Regions from separate parts of the Homo sapiens genome. Here region 2 is linked to region 1. Evidence: fine-mapped QTL for protein levels in blood plasma. A gene starts in region 1. The other region holds a variant in brackets. All regions are shown on one strand. Distances are between the middles of the regions.

Region 1 (12,389 bases):
TATCAGTGGATTTATTCTTCAAATTTCTTCTTCTTCAGAAACACTGCAGGCCAGGAAAGAGTGGGATAATATATTCAAAGTGTCATAACGAAGAAACAAAAAACCCCAAAACCACTGCCAACCAAGAATATTACACCCAGAAAAACTATCCTCTAAAAATGAAAGAGAGATAAAGACTTTCCCTAATAAATCAAAACAGGAAATACATCACCTGCCTTACAAGAAATGATAAAAGGTTTTATTCAAGTTGAAATGAAAAGATGATAAACAGCAACACTAAAGCTGCAGGATACAAAAACAACATACAAAAATCAGTGGTGTTTCTATACATCAATAATGAACTGTCCTAGAAAGAATTTTAAGAAAACCATCTCAGGCCAGGTGCAGCAGTTCATGCCTATTTCCCAGTGCTTTGAGAGGCCATGGTGGGAGGATCCTTTGAGGCCAGGAGTTTGAGACTAGTCTGGGCAACATAGCAAGGTCCCATCACTACAAAAAATAAAATTAGTTGGCATGGTAGTGCACACCTTTGGTCATGGTTACTTGAGAGGCTGGGGTAGGAGGGTAGCTTGAGCACAGGAGGCGAAGACTGCAGTGGGCTATAATTTGCCATTGCATTCCCACCTGGGCAACAGTGCAAAACCCTGTCTTTAACAAAACAAAACAATCTCATTTACAATAGCAGTTAAAAGAATAAAGCACTTAGAAATAAATTTAACCAACAAGGTGAAAAACTCATACCCTGAAGACTGTAAAACACTGATGAAAGAAATTAAAGTAGGCACAAAGAAATGGCAAGACAACTCACATTCCTTCACTGAAAGAATTAATATTGTTAAATGTTTATACTATTACAAATAATCTACAGATTTGATACAATCCCTACCAAAATTGCAAAGGCATTTTTTTACAGAAATAGAAAATATAATTCTAAAATTTACATGGAATTTCAAAAGACACAAAATAGCCAAAACAATTTTTTGAGCAAGAAGAACAAAGCCAGAGGCATCCCACTTCCTGATTTCAAAAAATATCACAAAGCTGCAGTAATCAAAACAATATGGTACTCTCATAAAAACAGACATATAGATTCATGGAACAAAGTAGAAAGTTCAGAGATAAAACCATGCATAGATAGTCAACTGCTCTTCAACAAGGGAGCCAAGAATATATAATGGGTGAAGAATAGTCTTTTTAATAAGTGGTAATGGGAAAACTGGAAATCCACATGCAAAAACTGAAATTGGACCCCTATATTACCCCATACACACAAATCAACTCAAAATGGATTAAAGACTTACACATACACCTGAAATCATAAAACTTTTAGAATAAAACATAAGTGATAAGCTTCTTGACATTAGTCTTGGCAATAATATCTTGACTATGACGACAAAAGCACAGGCAACAAAAGCAAAAACAGACAAGTGGGACTACCTCAAGCTAAAAACCTTCTGCACAGCAAAATGAAAAGACAACATATACAATGGAAGAAATATTTGCAAACTATACATCTGGTAAGAAGTTAATATCTATCTAAAATACATAGGGAATTCCTACAAATCAAAAGCCAAGAACCAAATAGTCTACTTTAAAAAGTGGACAAAGGAGCTGAATAGACATTTCTTCAAATAAGATATGTAAATGGTCAATAGGTACTTGAAAAGGTGTTTAATATCACTAACCATTAGGGAAATTTAAATCAAAATCACACACCAGTTAGGATGGTTATTGTCAAAATAACCAAAGGTAACAAATGTAGCTGAGGATATGCAGAAAGGGAAATTCTTCTACAGTTGTGGAAGAATTGATAAAGAAAATGTGGTATATACATGCAATGAAATATTATTTGGCCTTAAAAAAGAAGGAAATCCTGCCATTTGTGACAATATGGATGAACCTAGAGGACATTAATCTAAGTGAAACAAGGCAGGGACAGGAGGATAAATACCACATAATACAACTTATATTAGGAATCTAAGATAGTCAAACTCATGGAACCAGAGAGTGGGATGGTGGTTGCCAAGGACTGGGTGAGGGGGAAACAGGGAAGTGTTAGTCAAAGGTCAAGATGTATAATTCTTAGAGATCTATGCTACAGAATAGTGCCTATTGTTCATAATACTGTATTGTATACTTAAAAATTTGCTAAGAGCACAATTTCTTTGTTAAGAGTTGTTACATGCACACACAAAATAATAAATAAAGAGAGTGAGAGGAAACTTTTAGAAGTGGTGAATACGTTTATGGCATATGTTGTGATATTTTCACAGACATATACTAATCTCCAAACTCAAACTCATCAAGTTATGTACACTAAATATGTAGAGTTTATTATATGTCAATCATAACTCAATAAAGTGTTTTTTTTTTTTAAAAAGACCATTAAGTCTTTGTTTAGTGAGTCCAAAGTTTGTGGTTCTTCTGGAACAGATTATGTTCATTTCTTCTGTAAATGGTCCATACTTTCTCATATCTTTGCATGCATCATAATTTTTGGTTGAAAATTTTTGGTTGACACTTTGACTCTTACAGTAACTCTTGAAATCAGACTCTTCCTTCTGCTTGGGGTTTGTTTTGGTTGCTTGGGGTTTGCTTTGGTTGCTTGGTGTTTGTTTGATGACTTTTCTAAACTACTTTTGGCAAGTCTATTCTTTATCACATGTGGTCTTTGAAGTCTGTTCCTTTGACTTATATTCAGCTAGTATTTAGACAGAGATTTCCTTCAATGCAAGAGGAGGGAGAGAGAGAGAGAGAAGAAAAAGAAACCCAGAAAAACAAATCAAAATCTCAAAATCTCTCCCAGTCTTTGCAGATTGGTTCTGTCCTGGGCACTCACTCATCCAGGCCATTTGCAACTCTACCTTAGCCTTCACTTCATACTTGCACTGAACTTAGACAACCACCAGAGGTGCAGGCTCAGAGTCTTCTGAGGTCTTTCTGAGCATGTATCCTGCCCTGAGCATGTATGGGGCTTCCTAAACTCCCCAATACACACAGGCACTTTTGAATGCCCTAATTTTCCATAGGATCTTAGTTTTTCCCCATGCTTTGGTGCTCTGTTGTGTGCCTCCACTGTAATCCTTTGCCCCAGACAGCTGAGATTGCTCATTAATCTTGCAATGCCTGTGCTTTGTAATATTAATGCTTTTCTGCTCTGAGTTCTGAGCTAGGTGAAACCAAGACAAGTGCCTGGGGTCTGTCCTACAGGAAGGCCTTAGGATAGAAAAGACAAACACATTATTTTTGAATAAGGTCTTCTCTGTTCTTTCCAGTGCTAGGGAACCGGGTCCCTCCCTGAGTGAGAAACGTACATGGTCAGTGTTTGCTGCACCAGAGTTAGGAGAATTTCTTCCATATTAGATAGACAGATTTATATACTTTCCCATGGAAGATTAAGAAACTGAAATCTAAGATACATGAAGAAATTGTAAGTGGAAAGGCCACTTAGTGGTTGGTTTACAACAGTATTATAAGTGATAGGGTGATAGAAGTGTGGTAAGTGATTAGGATAATATTCTGCATAGTAAGAGAAACAGTTTGTATTTTTAGAAGAAAATTGCTTTAACATTTGCAAACTAAGGTAATGAGAATACAGTGAATTTCAAAATGTCTTTTTAATGACAATGTGTGAACTTGTTTTAATAAACCAAAATTTGTTGTTATTGTGTTAAGGCTATTTTATGTACTCAGATATCCTTCAAGACCACTGCCAAATTAGGGAGGGTATGGGGCAAGGACACAAAGGACAGACACGCAAAATGCTACTAAGCTTTCATACCATTTTTAGTTGCCTGTTCCTGCATTCAACATTTTCTTAGGTGCTATAAACCTTTGACTGTTTTCCAGAGTTCTAAATAAAGTTGGTTCTGACAGCTTCCCTTTGGTTTCTGTAGAAATGGATTTTTGGTTTTTGGTTTTGGTGGATCTGCCTACTCTGCCATTTCCGCTGCCATCACTTGCACTGCACACCCTCCTGTGTGCCACCCTTGTTTCCAGGATGTTGTCATTCTGCTTAACATTACCCCAGTTCTTTCTCTCTAAAATGCCACCCATATGTGCCTGAGTTTGTAATAAAATTTTAGGGTAAAATAAAATTTAGGGTATCAGTTGGTGATTACGTCACAGCACAATTATGGTAGGTAATCATGTTGACTGAAATATTTGGCTTCTCTGTTTTTTTTTTTTTTTTTTTTTTTTTTTTGAGACAGGATCTTGCTGTGTCACCCAGGCTGGAATACAGTGGCATGATCAGAGCTCCCCGCAGCCTCAAACTCCTGGGCTCAAGCAATCCTCTTGCCTCAGCCTCCCAAAGTACTGGGATTACATGCGTGAACCCCCACACCTAGTCAGCTTCCTTGTTGTTGAACATCCTCTGGTTATTCCCCCCATTAGAAGGCCCCAGCAGCCACTCCCACTGTGCTATGGGTTTCTTTTCCATCTTTTCTGAATCCCCTAGTTTCCTTGTCTGAGTAGGTTCAGTAAAACCGAAAACAGAAAATAGAATCACCAGTAATCTTATTAGCCAATGATAGCAACTATTAACTGTTTGATACATACACTGTAAGATCTTTTAGTCATATATATAAGTAGGTATAAGTATGCATTTATATATATGCATATAAACACACATACATATGTGTGTGTGTGTTTTTCTTCAATAAAAATAAAATTGTAGTAAGGACTTTTTATTTAGATAAATATGTCATTTCAATGGCTATGTAATAGTTCAATTTTGGATATACAATAATTTAACCAGTGTCTTATTAATAAGCATTTAGTTATTTCCATTTATTCTCTATTATAAACATTGCAATGATGGCAACTATTTTAGAAGTTACAAGAATCTTAAAGTGTGTTTTCTTAAGTAGTTTTCTTTAAATATTTTCTTCTACAAGCTGGCACTAAGACAAGATAGTTTTGGATTGCCACCAAAGTTGGCAATCATCAATAAGTATCCAAAATATTTTAAACATTTTTCACCTTAATAGATGACACTCTAACTTCAATAAAATATGTCATTTCAGTTTCGAGTTCCTTTGTAGCCCACAAAGCCTTCATTCTGATCAAATGGATTCATTTATTTGGAGGGGCCTAGTGCATTGCTGCCTTCCTATGGTAGCACTTGCTGCTTTTCCTGGCTAAAGAAGCTGGAAATCACTCCTCTTTCTCACCACTGATCACATGTAATACAGAATTAAACGTTCAGCTCAAATCCTACTTGATCTATAATCTCTTCATGACCTCTCAGCATGAAGTGATTTGTCCTCTCATTGAAGTCCTTTACCACATATTTGTATCACTTTTGACAATTAAATATATACTGTCTTGTAACTTGCACTTTTGTGTTTTCAGATGTTTCAAATTTGCTTATTATTTCCCCTTTCTATAACTATAGAGCGTACTAAGAGGCTGTTGAAGGAAGAGATCAGTCTCACTGTCTTCGTAGCACTGTACCTTACACACAGGAGGAGCCTGGTAAATATTTTTGATTTACTACAATTACAGTAAATCACAGCCTTGTATTAGTAAAATTCTTGTTCAGTTCAATGCCTCTGCATATATAAGCACATAAAAAGAACTATTTTTAAAAAATCACTTTTATCAAGATATTAACATAAAACATTTGTTGCTGACTATAGAGTGGCATTGTTGTAACTGAACTATGTAATATTTAAATCAAAATTATATATTTAAGATTATTTTCTATGTTTTTACAACCTTTAAATTATCAATTAAAATTGTTTGCATAAAGGTTGAATTACTTACCTTGCAAAACCTTAAGTGGAAGCACAGAAATAACAGGAAAACATGAAGAAGCTTCATGTTGGAGGTGTTCGGGGTCTTTGTCTCTGCTGAGAACTCTTTTCCACTCCAGGTATTCTTTTGAAATTTAATTTTTAACCTCTGAAAAAATGTTTCAAAAGAACAAACCTCCTAAAGAGCTTTGTACTTTTGAACTCTGAAAGAATTTGGCTGAAATCCAGAGAGATTTACCGTAACTGAAACCAAAAAATGGCCTTCCCATTAAAGAGCTGAGGGAGGTGACCAATAGGAACTTGTTTCCACCAGAAGAGACTGATTTCCTCCCACCCTGTTAATTGCAATGACTCAATTCTGTATTCCAGGGAAGACAGAAATTATATTGGAAGCAATTTTTTGGTTTTTTTTTTGTACAGTAAAAATATAATTTTTTAAACTTAAGGTTGAAGACTAGGAGACAGTAAGAATAAAAGTAGACCATATAGTGAAGGCTGCAAAATACATTTAAAACTCTAGAAACCAGCTTCTTTACCATGCATTTGTTGTGCTGTGATCAAATTGTATTTTTGGAGTACAAGAAATTTTAAAAACAAGTATTCTTGTGCCAGTACCAACTATCATGCAGGGTTTATCTATTTATGAAATAAATCTGTGATAGCAGAAATGCTGACACAGTTGGGTTCATCAGAAGCAGACTTGAGACAGTGAGTGTGGGGCACAAGTGTTTGTTAGGGATCGATATCCATACAAGGAAGGGAGGGGAAGCAGGGGTGAACAGAGGTAGAAGTTGAACTGGAGTGAGTGTGACCTGTCACAGTGCCCCTGATTTCAGTATAAATGGCTGGGCCATTATATTCTGCCTTGCTTGGTCCCCTACTATATATTGCCCAGGAAGGGCATACACTTAGGTGAGACAGTTTTCTGTAGCTAAGGCAGACACAGAAGGATCTGACAGTTATGTGCTATCAGGAGGAGGTATCTTCTGACTACACTCTTTACAGCCAGGTAGCAAGACCTTCCTTGACAAGGGTTCTGGGAAACTCATCTCTGTGTCTTTCAGAGTACATACTTGCACCTCTTAGATCTATGTTCCATATACACTCCAGGAGTGGCTCCTTAAACATTTCAGTGGGTCCCTATTCTTGAGAGAAAACTTAGAAGAGGAAGTTAATGGGAAAAACTACAGCTCCTACCCTTGCAGTTGATCTTGGGGCTGTAGTTGAAACTTACCCTTGGCCCCCTTCCTATCCATTTTAGATTCCCTTTACCTTGACCTCCCACCTCTGCTGGTCTCGGTGACTTACTGGATGACATGTCCCACACTCTCTTTCAGGAGTGGTCTGAGCCCCTGGTTACCTTTTGTTTCTCAGGCAAAAGTTGCCATTTTTATCCCTACTGTCACAAGAGGCAGGCTGGACATGGTGGCTCACTCCTGTAATCCCAGCACTTTGGGAGGTCAAGGCAGGAGGATTGCTTGAGGCCAGGAGTTTGAGATGAGCCTGGGCAACACAGGGAGAGGTTGAGGCTGCAGTTAGCCATGATTGCACCACTGCACTCTAGCCTAAGTGACAAAGAGAGACCCTCTCTTAAAAAAGAAACCAAAAAAAGCAAAAAATAAGAGGTACCCCAGTAGGTTATGTGGGTTCTACACATCTTCCTCCCTGCCCACATTATAGTAATAGCAGCCCTACTTCCTCGGAATGATCAGGGCCAATTACCCTTGTGGATTCTGACTCTTTCTTGCTAGTTCCTAGACACAAAGAGCCCAGCGTACCCCAGGCAACAGCTCTGGTTTATAATTCCATGGGACTCTTGCTTGCCCCTGGTGAAAGTATAGTCCTTTGGAGACCAAGATAACGAACCCTGCAGAGTCTACAACTGTGGAGACAAGATGCACAAAGCCCCCAGTTGGTCAATGGTGGTGATGGTAAGTGTGGTAATTCTTGCCTTTATTCCTTGGTTCCCAGACCCAGGTATTCTTCCTATTGGGAACATAATGCTATATGAAAGTCTTTGATTGAATGTATATACTGCTTCCTGGAGGATAGCACCCCATTCTCACAAAGTTTTGCATTTAACTGGCACCTCAGCTCTGTCCTCAGCAGCCCATTATAACATTCTGTAAGTCCACCAGCTTCTGAGTGGTGTGGTATGTGATATGACCAGGGGATTGCATGATCACAGGCCCACTCCTGGGCCTGCTTTGCTGTAAAGTGGGCACCCTTGTCTGGCAGGATGTGATCTTTGCTAGATAATTAAGCACTCTATAATTCTCTGGATTATGGTGCTAATGGAGGCCCTGCAGGCAAGAAAGGCACACTCATACCTCAAATATGTCTATTCCTGTAAGAATAGACCACTGACCCTCCAAAGAGTGAAAGAATCAGATGTAATTAATTTGCCACTAAGTGACTAGTTGGTCTCCTTGAGGAATTGTGCCATCTTGTGGGGACAGTATTAGTGTCAGCTGCTGTCAGGTTGGGCATTTGTTAATGATGGGAGCTAGATAAGCCTCGGGGTCTGTGCTATTGGCCTCATGGGTGGCCTCTATCTCTGTTACCACGGTCACTTCATTCTTGTGCCCATCGTGCCAGCAGTGGGGTGGCTGATGACTGAGACTCAGTCATTTTGGCTCAATCGTTTTGTTGAGCCAAACTGGTTGAGCCATTTTGTTGGTTATTTAGTGCCTTTTCTTTGGTGGATGCTTTCTAGTAGGCATTAACATGTGATACAAAGATTTTTTTTCCTTTTTCTTTTTTCTCTCTCTCTTTTTTTTTTTTTTTTCTGAGACAGTGTCTCGCTCTGTCACCCAGGTTAGAGTGCAGTGGCGTGATCTCGGCTCACTGCAAGCTCCGACTCCCGGGTTCATGCCATTCTCCTGCCTCAGCCTCCTGAGTAGCTGGGACTACAGGCGCCCGCCATGACGCCCGGCTAATGTTTTGTATTTTTAGTAGAGATGAGGTTTCACTGTGTTAGCCAGGATGGTCTTGATCTCCTGACCTTGTGATCTACCTGCCTCGGCCTCCCAAAGTGCTGGGATTACAGGCGTGAGCCACCGTGCCTGGCCATGATACAAAGATTTGTATACTTCATGCCCAGTCCTGTATGTACACATATCCATTCTAGATTCTCTTCACTCCGACCTCCCACCTCTGCTGATCTCAGTGACGTACCTGATGACATGACCCACGGTCTCTTTCAGGAGTGGTCTGAACCCTTGGTTACCATTCACTTCTCAGGCTAAAGTTGCTGTTTGCCTCCCAGAACTTTTTGCTCTTGATCTTTGAATATTTTTCATTTCAGGAACAAAAGATGATCAGGAAATCACTATTGCCTGTGATTCTATATAAGTCTAGCCTCAGGCCACCTCTCTTTCCACACGAAGTGGATGACCAGGTGTACCCCCTGCAGCTCTGCCCTTTGGGAGGACTTTCTCTCACCACTGTCTTTCAAAACCACTCCAAAGTGTGGCTGTAAAGCTGCCTCTGTCTATTTTTAACTTGCCTATATACCAAGCCAACCCATCTGTAAACAAAATGTGACCTTTTCTCTCCTCCTTCAGCTGGTCATACCAAATTCCCCAGGGAGCTATAGGTGTGAGCTAAGGAAGGGCCATGAGTGCAACTGTTTGGATGCTGGGGACAGGGGCAGTCTGGGCTACCTGCTACCTGTTTATGCACATTGCTCATACCTCTGGTCCTGTTTGTGTTTGGCTCTGGATGTCACACTTCTATCTTACAATACATTTTTCCTAGGCCTGCTTGTCCTTATACTTTGCGGGTCCATTTGGATCCAGATCATAATGGGCAGTTCTGGCCGTATGGTGATGTAGTGTCCTGTGATTCATTATTCTACATTTACCAGGAACCAGTAATATACAAATTGGTCTTTAAAAGACACACAATTCTCTGCTGCAGATGGCATGGCCTTGCTCCAGAACCCTGAGGTCCTATATTGTGGTTCTCCCACAGGATCTTCCTCAAACACCACACAGCATTTTTTCCCCCATCACTGAGACTTCTGATGCCATAGAGTCTGCTGGACCACTGCAGAAGCCATTTCTGCTTTGGCAGCTGGAGCAGTATTCCCTACTGCAGAATATTTGCTCCCAGAGTCCAAAAAGCCTCATCAGATTTTGTGCTTCCTTCTTTGTTAAAGAAAGTACAAGATACAATAATTTGTCTTTTACATTAAAGAGGATGTGCTAGCACGTTCCTGAACACTGGTTTCCTAAAAATTTTACCGATGTGCCAGGCTTTATTTCCTACCCTCTGGAGCACATCTGTCTTACCAAAGTATTTAGCATGCTACTTCCTCATCTCCTCTGATCAAGATAATGCTATCAATGGAAAAACAATGGTGTCTTATGGGAAATCCAGATGCTCCAGATCTCTGCATATTATATTATATCAGAAGGTGGCAGATAAGGCCTGGGAAAACTTTAAGTGTATATGTTGCCCATTCCATGTGAATGAGAACTGTTTCTGATCCTTTCTGATTAAAATGCCCCCTCTCTCTTGCTCCTACTCCAGCCATGTAATGCACGTGCTTTCCGTTTGCTTTCTGCCATGATTGTAAGTTTCCTGAGGCCTCCCCAGAACCGGAGCAGATGCCAGCATCATGCTTTCTGTACAGCCTGTGGAACCACGAACCAATTAAACCTCTTTTCTTTATAAATTATCCAGTCTCAGGTATTTCTTTATAGCAGTGCAAGAATGGACCAATACAGTAGTTAACAAAAAGAAAATGTAAAGTGCTCATGAGGACTGAAATTTTATTCAGTTTAAGTCTCTTTCCTCCTATGATCTCAATGAAAATAAATATAAAAATAAAAGTAATTCCATTGCACCATTGAAAAATGAAGAAGGATTCATTAATAGGACATAAACAGTGAGGAATTACTAGAATACATATAATAGACAGGAAAAGATTAACTGCAAAACTTAAAGGAGTTTAAGAAGTGTCAAATTCATATAGGTGACAACGAGATATCCAAAATAAGAAAGACCATAGAATAAATAGAAACAGTAGAATCTGAGATAAGTGATAGACTAAGTAATTAATAAATAAAGGGAAGAACATTTGAGCCAGTGCCCCACTCGGGGGTAACTTGAGCATTTACTCCAGGCTAAAGCCTACAGTAAGGCTCTCTATAGCACATGTTCTAACCCAGAACCCCTTGAGTGGACACTGAGGCAGAAGCAGAGAAGCATTCTAGATGACACCAGCCTCCATGAAGTTAAGGGAGTCTCTGAACTTAAGAGGCAAGCCATAGGCAAACCCTTGAGGCCTCATATCCCACCCTTCTCCTGCAGTCATTGAAGGCAGAGCTCTATAATCAGAATCTACAAAAGCAGAGGTACAGCACAATAAAAAGACCAACCTCACTCATGAATATAGATGCATAAACTCTAAACAAAATATTAGCAAACTGATACAAAATCTTGAGTAGTATTCAGTAATCTTACCATTAATAATAATACTTACTTGACAGCATATATATATATATATATATATATATATATATATATATATATATGGAGGCTAAGGCAAATAAATAATTATGCTAATGTCATAAGAATTTCAGGGTAAGACAAACACAAGTTTAAATTCAAAGAAATGGAAACCCTGTAGTCTTAACTTTGAATTGGAAATACCGCTATGACCCTCAGTTTTTTTTCTTTCTAAAAATAATTACCTTCTAGTTGTCCACTGTGTCCACTGATAGGGCCTAGAAGTCCTAACAATCCAGAAGCAATGAGCACTCCTTAGTGGCAGATTGTCTTCTCTACTTACCATTTTCCATTTAAAAAACTAAGGCTCTTTGGAGAAAGGGCGATTCCACATCTGGGGCATAAAATGTGAAAGAAATATTTTGTACCAGAAAGCAAGGAAGCCATTGGAGGCTAGTTGGTGGTATTAAAATACTTGAAGGGGCTCTCAAAGATGAAATATTTTAAGCATTATAAGGAACAATGATAGCAAAAAATTGAAATAAAAAAGGAAATTTCTTTATTTCAGTTAATAATTGCAAAATAAATGATAGAATTATCATATTACTATTTTGCACTACCTTATGAGCCAATGGATCTAGTGATGATCACCAACAGCTGCTAAAACCGTTAGATGAAAAGCTGGCAGGGAACTCTAAGAGATTGATGAGGCTGATAACACTGATCCTACTGACTGATCTCATCTCCAAAGAGGGACAACCAGACTTTATGTGCCTCTTCCTGGGATGGTAGGAAGTATTCTTGCAGGTCGAAAAAAAAAAGAACCTGAACACAATCAAGTCTCTAGATCTCACTATCAATTAACTATCAGTTTATGGGAAATACAGAGGATAGAAAAACAATTTATACCACCACAAGGATAAGAAATATTATGTGTCTCTTCATGGGACGGTAGGAAGTATTCTTGAAGGAGGAAAAAAAGAAAAGAAAAGAAAAGAAAAGAAAAGAACCTGAAAACAATCAAGTCTCTAGATCTCACTATCAATTAACTACCAGTTTATGGGAAATACAGAGGATAGAAAAACAATTTATACCACCACAAGGATGTAATCAGTGAGAAAGTAGAAAATTCTACATGACAAAAAGACTCAGTATTTTCAACAAATAAATGCC
Region 2 (12,389 bases), 67 kb before region 1:
ACCTTGGCTAATCTTATTGGAAACATGATCTCCCAACTGCTCTCTTAACATTTTCAATTTCCAAACAAAAGTCCAATATTTTTCTGACCTATTAAAATATTTAAGCACTCAAAAATGTGCTACAAAAGAACTATCTCTGCCTGAAATACTGAGTTGATTAGTACTCATACCGCCACCAAACAAATTCTCAGGTTCAAAGAGAAAGTTCAAAAAATATTAAAAGAGTAAATGAAGATAACTGTATTAACGTTAACCAACAATGAGGAGGAGGCGGGTCACTGATATCTAAGGAAAGAAGAGTTATCGGAACCCTTTCTCAACACTCGAGTACACCAAAAGTCTGTACAAAGGTCGCAAGTTATTGTCTATGGGTTTGCAGAAAAAAAACCATTTAATATCAATTATAGAGAAAGTTAATACGGCATGGTTTTTAAATTCTCAGTTTGCTTCGCATGTTCATCCAATTTACAGAAGCAAAAATGAGCTAAAACCAGTCTGTTCCACTCTATTCCCATGATTCCTACGTCAGTAAGTTCTTCGGCAACTTGGTGCAATTGAGGGGGGGAAAAGGTAATTCAGAAGCAATGCAAATGGGACGGGGGGTACACCTCTCCGTTAGAATGTGACCTCTCACATTCTAACAATAGTGGTGCGAACTTGTACCCAGCTTGCTCAATCACTAGAACGGCAAGATTCTAGCAGTGGTTAAGTTTTTCCACAGCCGAAGGACACCGTCAAGGTCTGCCTTGCATCTGTCACTCACACCTCCAGGATCTCCGTCACCCCAATCCCCCGAAAGCACGAGCCCTCGCTGGGCCCGGGTGCCCCCTCACCGTCACTGCATTTATACTGGCAGAGACCGTCCTCGCCTCCCAGGAGGTCCAAGGCGGCGTTCAGGTACGTGTCTATCTTATGAACGCCGTTCCGGATGGTCTTCAGGGTGGCTCTCCAGTCGGTGGTCTGGGCCTGCTCCTGGCACCTGACAACAGCGGCCATGAGGAGGAGCAGGAGGGTGAGCGCGGGGCGCGAGAGCAGGGCCATGCGCGCAGCGCCGGGCTCTACGGGTCCCCGAGCCGCGGCGCGGGGCGCGTCCCCACAGAGTCCCCAGGACGCGCTAGGCAGCGGCGCGGGCCCCGGACTTGGCAGCAGCCAGCTCCATATCCACGCCTCCTTCCCGGCTGGCCCTCAGGATCTCGCTGTCTTTACGTGAACCGCCTCGGGCAGGCAGCGCCGTCGCGGGGACGCGCCCGCTCACCTGGACCAGCGCGCCCGCTCACCTGGGCCAGCAACCGTCCCCTGTGCGCCTGCGCCGGAGCACGGCGCGTCAGCGGCGCACGGGAGGGGCGGGACGCGCAGGGGTGGGGCGGGGCGGGGGCGGGGTTGGGGGGGGCGGGGAACCGGGGGAGGGGCGCGCGGGGCGGGAAACGGGGGCGGGGCCTCCATGCCCACGTGGTCTCCGCGGCACCCTCCCAAGACCCTTGGTCCTGGTTCACAAGAGAACCTTAAAAAGTACCCAGGCCTGAGCCCCTTTTCTAGGGAGCCTGATTACGTTGTCCCAGGTGGCAGTGGGCGTCGGTATTTTTTAAGAAAGCTCTCCGGGCTGTTAACCGTGAAGCAAGAGTTGCAGAGCTAACCCCGGTGGCCTAACCTGACCAGTCGGGGCTCAGCACAGTAGCCCCGAGAGACAAGCTTTTCTGGGTGTGGACAACATCGGAGAAAATAACCCCTGTGCCCCCTCGCAGAGAGCGCTGCGAGAGGTCCAGCTGAGTTTCCGGCTTGAAGACGTGGTTCCATTGGCAATGTGGGCAGAGTCCGGCTGTCAGCTCGCAGAGCAGGGCTTTTCCTCCTTGCGTCCTCTCCCGGTCCTCCAGATCTGCTGTGGCCGCGGTTGGGGGAGCGGGATCTGGAAGATGCCAACCCATGCCTTGGCGGTGCCTGACTCTAATCAGGACGAGCTAAATGCTAGTTTAGACTTTCCGGAAAAAGAAAATGGGCCAACATAAAAATCATAAAATTCTCCCCTGGTAAGGAAGAAACAGTAGTGTAAACTTAAATACAGTAAAAAGTAAAATAAATCTTAAGGAAGTCATTGTTTTTCTACTCAAGGGATTTTGTAACTTGATAGTTACAGTGACGTTTGTTTCTCTGTACCTACCACCCTGCCCCCAGCATTGTGCGGGATCCATAAATAACTATTGCAGTAGTACTTTGTATCAGTTGTAAATATCTGGTTATCTTAGTATCACAGCAGTTTCCAAGAATTTTACAGTAAGATCCAGAGCAATGTTGAAAGTATTGGGCAGACCAAGCGCGGTGGTTTACGCCTGTAATCCCAGCACCTTGGGAGGCCTGGAACTCCTGAGGTCAGAAGTTCGAGACCAGCCTGGCTGACATGGTGAAACCCCATCTCTACCAAAAATACAGAAAATTAGCTGGGCGTGGTGGCGGGCACCTGTAATCCCAGCTACTCGGGAGGCGGAGGCAGGAGAATCACTTGAACCCAGGAGGTGGATGGATGTTGCAGTGAGCTGAGATTGCACCACTGCACTCCAGCTTGGGGCACAGAGCGAGACTCTAAAAAAAAAAGAAAGTGAGTAAGTATTGGGCATAGGTGTGTCCTTTCTATAAGAATTACCAATAAGTTCTAGGTTTGGCCTTTTGTGTTTGTTACAAACTAAATGAGCTTATAATAAACGTTCAGTGCACAGTTCATAAAAATTACATCCCTCTTTATTGAGTGCTTACTATGTGCCAGGCACTTCATGAATATGATCGCTCACATTCAGAACACTACTTTACAAGGATGCAGACTTTGGGCAAGTTAGAAACATAGAAAGGCATTCCTCCCTACAAACAGGGTAGCCCAACAAACGGTGTAGCTCCTGGCTGGAGACTGCCTGCACTTCACTCAGCCCCTCAACCAGGAGTCTTGGGCAGTGATTAATTCCTACCACAATGGAGAAGGGGGAAGAATGTTCCCTGGAAGGTATTATTATCTTCCTCTTTTACAATAAAAGAGTCGAGGTGAGAAGTCATGTGACAGTATCTACTCCAAACCAAGGCCTCTGTCTTCACAAAATACCACAGATATTTTTATTTTTTAATTTTTAGACAACACATTTCAATACATTTTAAAAAGGGAACTTAGAATCATTGTCTTAGCTTTCTGGAACATTGGTTTCTCAGCTCCAAAGTATGAAAGTTGGACTAGATTACCTCTGAGATACCACCACCTGAATCCTTAAACCAGGCTTGGTTCTTACAACTCCCTAGTCCAGGGACAAGACTTTCAAAAGAAAGGATAGAATGTAATAAAATAACCTAGTTCCAGCCCTCAGTTATGACCCAAAGCCTCTCCTTTCCCCCACTTTCTCTATTTATTTACTTCTTTGTGATCTCATCTAATTTCTTACACCTTAACTACAGCCTATACTCTGAGGAATCAGACGTAGTTTTCTTTGTCTGATCTCTCCTTAGGGATTAAATTCTCAAATGCCAGTTCTTCTGGCTTGATGCAGCTGTTCTCTTTCTCTCAAGCAAATCTTTCCACTGTCTTCCCCATGAGAATCACCACCATTTTTGTAGAAAACAAGACTCTAAGTTTTATTTTCACATTCTTTTCACATTTAATCATTATATATTTGTTGTTCTGCTGCAGTAATTACAAGGTTTACGTTTTCCTCTTAATTGATGCTGTTAAATACCAGGGATCTGCACTGACCACAGACTATCTGTATAATTTGTAGGGCTCAGTGCAAAATAAAAATACAGAGCCCCTTGCTCAAAAATTAAGAATTTCAAGGTGATGGCCGGGTGCGGTGGCTCACGCCTGTAATCCCAGCACTTTGGGAGGCTGAGATGGGCAGATCACGAGGTCAGGAGATCGAGACCATCCTGGCTAACACGGTGAAACCCTGTCTCTACTAAAAATACAAAAAGTTAGCTGGGCATGGTGGCGGGCACCTGTAGTCCCAGCTACTCGGGAGGCTGAGGCAGGTGAATGGCGTGAACCCGGGAGGCAGAGCTTGCAATGAGCCAAGATCGTGCCACTGCACTCCAGCCGAGGCCACAGAGCAAGACTCTGTCTCAAAAAAAAAAAAAAAAGAATTTCAAGGTGATAACAGCAGAGCATTAAAATAAGTACAGAGCCCTTTTGACTGTGGGGCCTTGTGCCACTACACAGGATGCATGCTCTGATTTACCATATCATATAAATTTTTTTTTTTTGAGTCTGGCTCTGTTGCCCAGGCTGGAGTACAGTGGCACAATCTCAGCTCACTGCAACCTCCGCCTCCCAGGTTCAAGCTATTTTCCTGCCTCAGCCTCCCGAGTAGCTGGGATTACAGGTGCCCGCCACCACACCTGACTAATTTTTTGTATTTTTAGTAGCAATGGGGTTTCACCAAGTTGGCCAGGCTGGTCTCGAACTCCTGACCTCAAGTCATTCCCCTGCCTTGGCCTCCCAAAGTGCTGGGATTACAACATGAGCCACTGTGCCCAGCTCATCTCACGTAACTTCTAGATGACCCACTTCCATCTTTTCTTCCCAAATTTTGGCATAAACTGTTTGAAAAGAGCCTTCTTTACAGGACACTTTCATCTAACCAGCAAAACCTGTTATTTTCATGACAGACATCATTAGTTGCAAATCCACAGCTGTGTTCCAGGTCTTTCCTGCTAGAGAGTGGCTAGCTTGTCTATATATACTTTGTGGTGGGCAGAAGCTGAAGATAGGAAGTCAGTTATGATACAGTAATCTAGGTATGGCATAAGTATGGCTTGGTCCAGGAAAGGAGCAGTGGAGGTGTGAAAAGTGGTCATATTCTAGATGTAACTTGATGGTAGAGCAGAAGGGATTTGCTGATGGACTGAATATGAGAGAAAAAGAGGAATCAAGGATGGCATTGAAATTTTGGCCTAAGCCACAGGATAGAGAGAGTTCTAACTGTCAGAAATGGGGAGAATTGTGGAAGGAGAGGGTTTTGCGGGAAAATTTTAAAAATAAATTTCAGTCATACCATATCCAAGAAGCTTATTCTGAGTCTGCAGTTCAGCATAAAGGTTAGAAACGCATTGGGAAGTTGTCAGAATAGAAATGGCTTTTAAAGTCATGGGGCTTAGCTGGGCGCAGTGACTCATGCTTGTAGTCCCAGCACCTAGGGAGATCAAGGCTGGCAGATCGCCTGAGTCCAGGAGTTCAAGAGCAGCCTGGGTAACATAGCAAAACCTTATCTCTATAAAAAAAATACAAAAATTAGCCAGGCATGGTGGTACATGCCTGTAGTCCCAGCTACTTGGGAAGCTGAGGTAAGAGGATCCTTTGAGTCCGGAATGCAGAGGTTGCAGAGAGCCAAGATTGCGCTATTGCACTCCAGCCTGGCAACAGAGCAAGACCCTGTCTTAAATAAATGAATAAATAAATAACATGGGACTAAATGAGATCCTCTAAAAAGTGAGTGTACACAAAGAAGCAGAGCAAGGTCTAAGTCTTAGGAGGTCAAGGAAAAAAGAACAAAGGCGCTTAAGAAGGAGCAGCCAAGTGCAGCAGAAGTGGAAAAGTGCTATATTCTGGTGTGTCAAAGAAAGACAGAACCACCCATTCTGCTGATATGAGGAAGGTGAGGGCCGGATATTGACTACTAGATTTAGTAACTTGGGGGTTATTGGTGAACTTCACAAGAGTCTCATTGAAGTACTAGGGAGAAAACACAGTTGTAGTCAGAGGAAGAAAAGAATTAGAAATGGCGATTACAGGCAGGACGCAGTGGCTCATGCCTGTAATTCTAGCACTTTGGGAGGCCAAGGCGGGCAGATCACACGGTCAGGAGTTCGAGACCAGCCTGGCCAATATGGTGAAATCCTGTCTCTACTAAAAATACAAAAAAATTACCTGGGCGTGGTGGCAGGTGCCTGTAATCCCAGCTACTCGGGAGGCTGAGGCAGGAGAATTGCTTGAACCTAGGAGGTGGAGGTTGCAGTGAGCTGAGATCGTGCCACTGCACTCCAGCCTGGGCAACAGAGCAACAGTCTGTCTAAGAAAAAAGAAAAGAAAAGAAATGCAATTACAGTGAATATCAAAATAAATTATGAAAATATAAAATATACTATATTTGTGCTTATTCTTGTCTGAATGATATATTAATAAATACCTTGGAATGGGAGATTCTGGGTGGCCAAGACTGGCTTTCTTTTCTTTTCTTTTTTCAGAGACAGAGTCTCATTCTGTCACCCAGGTGGGGGTAGCATGATCATAGCTCACTGTACCCTCGAACTCTTGGGCTTAAGCAATCCTCCTACTTCAGCCTCCTGAGTAGCTAGGAATACAGGTGTACACAACTGTGACTGGCTAATTTTTGTTATTGTTATTATAGAGATGGGGTCTCCCTGTGTTGCCCAGGCTGGTCTTGAATTCTTGGGCTCAAGTGATCCTCCTGCTTTGGCCTCCCAAAGTGCTGGAATTACAGTCATGAGCCACCGCACCCAGCCCTACACTATATTTTCTATATAGAACTTCCCAGAACAATAATCAGGATAGGCAGTCAGATCTCAGATCTCTTCTAGAAACACCAAATGGTTTCTTCTATATATATGAGCATCATGGAAAAACATGGTAGTATTGATGAGATGAGAATGCAAAATTTGTGGGGTTTAACGTACCACATTAACTTAGAATGCTTGGAAACTACAATATTACACAATGCTTTGTGTTATTTTAAATAACAAAAATCAATAAAATATTAATGATAAACAGCAATTTCTATTTTTTAGTATTTTCCAATGTCTCACTAATGGCCTCAGCAGTGTTGTGATGAAAATAAAAGCCACGTGGTGAAAACAGTTCCAGCCATAATGGTTAATTTTTGTCCAGGATGAAAATAAAAGCCACATGGTGAAGCAATTCCATCCATAATGATTAATCTATGGCTAGTGCCAATGTCGCGGGAATCAGGCGGATGAGAGAGACTTCGGGGTAAAGCAGGAGGATCTTTATTGAGTGTACTCAGACTTACATCTGGAAAACTGGGCCTAGAACAAAGACAGCACTTGACTTTTATACACACTTCAAAAAGGGAGTGGGCTAGCTTGAAGCAGGCTTACAGTTACAGTGGTGTGAAAGCAAGGATACAGAGGCAGAGCAATTAATCAAATTGTGACAGGTTCATAACTCAGGATTACACATGACCGTTGCTGTGCAACCCAGATGTCAGTTATCTAGGTTTTCCTTTAGTGCCTAGCACAGCTTATTCCATGACCTTCACTATGGCGTCCAGGTGGCTGTATCTCAGGCCTGCTCAGACAGTTTATGACCTTCACTCCACTACTTAGATAAAACAGAATGCTTGAAGTTGCTAGTTACAGAGAACAGAAATCTATAAACTCATACTATAAGAGAAAGGAAAATTTGTTTTTCTTCTCCTTATGTTGAGGGAGTGCTGGGAGAGTCTCCAGAGCACATTCCTTTGTGTCCTAGCTTCTTAGATAGTGTTTATCAAGACTCTTTTTCCTGGGTCTGGGCCTTGCCTGCTACTGCCTTTGGGATGAGTCAGCCTAATACAGGAAAGCTTACTTCTTTCTCTTTTTAATTTTATTTTTCTTTATTTCTTTAATTTCCCACCGCACCAAGGCTAGAAGTTTCATCTCTAAAAGGGAACTTAAGTTAAAGAGAAATAAGTACTAGGTTCCAGCCTTTGGCTAGAAAGTCAATGGCATTAATAGCTTTCAAGCTGGGACAAAGTGAAGGGCAAGAGATGGCTGCACCAGATCTATGAGCATGGGCTTGTTCCATAATATGTTGAAGACAATGATCCTCTGCTTGGGTATGGTGGGGGGTCTACCATCAAGAAAATTTGATCAAAAAGATATTTTCAAGGTATCTTTGTATGCACAATGTAAGATTGCTTGGCACACAGGAGGGATGGAAAGAACCCACTTAGTTGAGACTGCAGGGTTTTAAGCCATCAGGACAGAGTCCGTATGTAGTTCTTCTAATTAGGGTTCCTGGCTACTTCCAAACCTCTGGTTGATTTTCAGCTTCGTATTTCCTATCACGTACTGTACACCTTCACTGGGCTTCCTTAGACATCACAACTTCAAAATATCCCTAACTGTCTAAATCTGATTCCATTCCTCTACTTCCTTCCTTTCTGTACTCAGTGGCAACACCAATCACCTCACCATCTAAGAGACTGGGAATTATCCTAGTCTCAAATCCCTCTCCCTAGTACTGTAATCTATTTGTCCCCAAATGCCATCTATTTCACTCAACATATCTAGAGTCAGTGCCATCCTTTTTATCCCTGCTTTAGTTTCTACCTTCATTATTTTTCATTTGATTACTCCAAGAGTGTCTTAACCATCTTCCATACCCTCTCTCACCCACTTCCAATACATCTTCCTTGCTGTCTCCAGCTTGAACTTCCTAGAATCCTTTAATGGTCCAAACTCTTTGGTATGAGGCTCTCCCTGGTATGGCCTTTCCCCCTCTCCAGCTCCTTAGCTGCACCCTGGGCTCCAGTCACTATGAACTGCTCTCCATCCTTGTGTGTGGTTAGCTCCTCACACTGCAGGGCCTTTGCATTTGTATCTGCCTGGAAAGTTCTTCCATAATTCAGACTAAGCTCACCTCTGCAGAAGCCCTCTTTAATATGTCAGGCTGGTTTCTAGATCTCCCTTTAGTTTTCCTTACCATTGTACCTGGCAAGGTGCAGCCGCATAATTTATTTTCCCATTTCTCTTGTAAGACAGAGAGCTCTGAAACCAGGGTTAAATATAAGACGATGGCAGAGCTCCACATCCAATGAGTTGTGTCCCTGGCCACCTTCAGGCGAGCTCACAGAAGCAGCAATGTCCAGTGCCCAGGCTCTGCAGTACAAGCTGTACGTGGAGACTGGGACCCATGCTAGTGGCCATGGTAGTCTCTGATGGAGCAGT[C/G]CTGCAGTGTGGTCTGTGAGCGTTATTTCCAGATGTGTAGACTCCAATTCTCTGGCTCTTTTGGAAATTCTGTGAACTGCATAATATCTTTGAATAAATCTATTTTTTCATTAAACCAGTTAGATTGGCTTCTGTAGTCTGGAATTAGGAGCGCTGAGACAGACCTCTAAACTAGGAGAAGCTTGGAGTCAGGTCATCTCACTCCTGCTGTTCCTGGTCTCTGTCACATAGAGTCGCTTCAGAGGGCTGACTTTCACCCTTCAAGGCTTGACCCTGGTCTACTTTTCTGTGAAGCTGCCAGATGCTAGGTCACTGTGCAGACTGGCTTGGCCCTTTTGGGGGCCCCCTTCCTAGATTGGCTGAGGATGCCCTATATGCTGGGTTTCCCACCTTGTAGCACTGGAGTACTTTTCTTTTTTTTTTTTTTTTTTTTAAGACGAGGTCTTGATCTGTCACCCAGGCTGGAGTGCAGTGCTGCAATCACAGCTCACTGCATCCTCAACCTCCTGGGCTCAAATGATCCTCCCACCTCAGCCTTCCAAGTAGCAGGGGCTGCAGATGTGCACCACCACTCCCAGCTTTTTTTGTGTGTGATAGAGATGGGGTCTTGCTATGTTGCCCAGGCTGGTCTCAAACTTCTGACCTCAAATGATCCACCAACTTTGGTCTCCCAAAGTGCTGAGATTACAGGTATGATCCACTGCGCCCAGCCACTTTTCTCTTTTTATCTCATACACAGACATATTCTAAGGTGCTGCGTTGCTCCCGGATTGCTGAGTCAGGACAAGGTGGTTTTCAAATATGTCCATAAATTCTTTGATACACCTCCTCCCTGCCGCCATCAAGAGATGGGTTATTTCCTTTCCTTTGAGCCTGGGCAGGTCTTTGTGATGCTAAGGGACTTCCAAAGCTGGGTTAGAGAAGGCCATGCAGGTTCTGCAGTTTCTCTTGGGAGGCTCATCGGCTGCTATGTAGGAAGTCTGGTGCCCCCGGCCCTGCCATGTTAAGAGCCCATGGGGAGAGTGCAGAGAGACATATCTGAGAAGCCCCAGCTGTCTAAGTCCGCCCAGCCCAGGCACCAAACACATGAGTGAATAAGCCTTCGTGATAACTCTGGTCCAATCCTGTCTGACGGCAACAGCATGAGAGACTGGAAGGGGAACTTCCCAGCAATAAATAACCAAATACTTTCCTGAATTTAATGGATGAAAAATCTGGGCAGCATGGGAGGGAGGAGTGGTGAGTTATTGTTTAATAGATATGAAGTTTCAATTTGGGGAGATGAAAATTTTCTGCAGATGGATGGTGATAATGATTGTACAACAATGGGCATGTATTTAATGTCACTCAACTTTACACTTACAAATAGTTAAAATTGTTACTTTTATGTTATACATATTTTACCACAATTTTTAAAAGAAAATCTGGGCAGTAACTGATTTTGGAATATATGTAAAAATGGGTATTTATATTATTAAATCAGTAGGGATCTATCCAAGACTGGCCCTAAATAAAATAATAAAGGGAATATTTATGTGAAACATATATGTCTGTCTTCAGGATAAAGATAGCTGTGCTTAAAAAAAAAAAAAAGAGTAGCTAATGTTTATTCACTGAGCAGCCTCTATGAGGCAAGTGGTAGGGATGTAGCCAGAAGGAAGACAAATGAGGTCTCTCTTGTCATGTGTCTTATGTTGTAGTTGGAGGAGACAGTGTTGAGAAGAGGTAGACAACCCAATCAAAACAGAATACACTGGGGGAAGAAAAGTACTATGCTGAGATTAAAGTAGGTGGTGTGACAGAGGGAGACTGGGCACCTACAATAGCCTTGGGGTCGGGTGGGGGTGCTATTTTCTGTAGGTTAAGAAAGTGCAACTGTTGAGTTTGGGTTGACCACTTTTCTTTTGAAATGTTACTAGATATTCACATGGCAATGGTATATACTAGTGTTCAGTGGCATATACTAATCTGAGGTTCTAGGAAAGGTCAGAGCTGAAGATCCAGATTTGTGAGTCACCGGACTGTAGGCAGGATTTAAAACGTAGTCTAGATGAGATTACCAGGGAAAGGCAAAGTGAGAGAAGCAACCAGAAGGAAGAGGCTGAGAACAGCAGTGAGGGAGGAGTGTGATGCCCTGAGGGGCTAATGCTGCTGCGATGAGAACAGAAGTGACTGTGAGGTCTGACACCATGGAGGTAGGTGGTTGTATTGAATTATCTGTGGATAGGTTTAGAGAGAGGGTCAAGGAATGCTTGTGAAATGGGGGAGCAAAGGCTAATTTTTCAAGAAATGTTAATACTTAAAGAAGCAGGGGCCTGGTGTGGTGGCTCACGCATGTTATCCCAGCACTTTGGGAGGCCAAGGTGGGAGGATCCCTTGAGCCTAGGAGTTCAAGACCAGCCTGGGCATCAAAGCAAGATGCCTCTCTACAAAAATTTAAAATTAGCTAGGCATGGTAGTGTGCACCTGTAATCCCAGCTACTCGGGAGACTGGGGTGGCATGATTGCTTGAGCCCAGGAGTTCAAGGCTGCAGTGAGCTATGATGGCACTTCTGCAGTCCATCCAGGGCAACAGAGGGAGACTTTGCCTCAAAAAAAGAAAGAGAGAAAGAGAAGAAAGAAAAGAGAAAAAGAAAGAAAGAGAGAGAAAGAGAGAAAGAAAGAAGGAAAGAGAGAAAAGATGAGAAAGAAATAAAGAGGAAGCAGGGAAATGGGACAAGAGCTGTGAAGTCAGTTATTACCCTGTGACAGGTACTATGCCAAACATTTATGTAAGTATGTAGTTTCATTTTCACAGAATTCCAGTTTCCATTTTATAGGTGGAAAAGGAGACACAAAGAAGACAATAAATTGTCCAGGGCATAGTAGGTGATAGAGCTGGGATTTGAACCCAACCTTATGTAAGTCCAACATTATTCAATTAGTTGTAACTTCAGTCAATAAATCACTCCCGCATTGAGATAATTTAATAAAATTTTCTGATAAATAAAACTTGTATGCTTCACCAAAATATTTATTTGAGAATTATACAACAAAATTCCAATATGGCATAAACTCTGTGGAGACCTTTAAAAATATCCAGTGAGATTTGCTTCATTTTTCCCCCCTAGAGAATTATTAATTATACCGTTTTATTTCCATTAAATGGAACTCTTGAGAGAAAAAGAATAGAATGAAGAGAGAGATCACAATTTTATACATTGTACTGAGAAATAAAAGGCCTTCCTACATGGTAGCTAATCCAGTCAAAATAATTGGCCACTTTGGTGTAAACACCTGGGAACTCTGGTTTTCCACAGTTTTCCCCCCAACTCACAACACCCCAGACATAAGTCACATTGTTGGCATCCATACAGACTAAGGGGCCTCCAGAGTCCCCTTTACAGGCATCGATGGAACCATCATATGTACCTAAGAAAGAAATGTGAAAGAGAAAATCACACATTTCCTTCCATTTT

Which allele goes with the higher level. Alleles are on the strand shown, and positions count from the first base shown. The strength of an association depends on the size of the effect and on how common the allele is.
As copies of G replace C in region 2, the plasma level of the protein whose gene starts at base 5,854 in region 1 goes up (moderate association).

The links. PIP is the posterior inclusion probability: the model's chance that the variant is causal. Protein levels are from antibody-based Olink assays in UK Biobank. Linkage for the fine-mapping came from a reference panel and not from the study's own genotypes, which makes the PIPs less certain.
Region 2: its variant is fine-mapped to the plasma level of the CFI protein (UK Biobank, PIP above 0.99).

What each region holds. Positions count from the first base shown.
Region 1 is chr4:109,796,146-109,808,534 of GRCh38, forward strand. CFI (complement factor I) reads right to left here and starts at 5,854. Exons shown (of 13, transcript NM_000204.5): 1 at 5,770-5,854. The coding sequence starts at 5,826. LOC124900757 (a long non-coding RNA gene) reads left to right here and starts at 7,527. Exons shown (of 2, transcript XR_007058226.1): 1 at 7,527-7,690; 2 at 10,296-10,443.
Region 2 is chr4:109,728,769-109,741,157 of GRCh38, forward strand. It overlaps CFI (complement factor I), which reads right to left. Exons shown (of 13, transcript NM_000204.5): 13 at 11,927-12,342. The coding sequence ends at 12,125. It overlaps PLA2G12A (phospholipase A2 group XIIA), which reads right to left and starts at 1,302. Exons shown (of 4, transcript NM_030821.5): 1 at 834-1,302. The coding sequence starts at 1,041. RefSeq lists enhancers at 691-760, 1,420-2,296 and a silencer at 1,091-1,430. The variant C/G (reference allele first, on the strand shown) is at 8,932.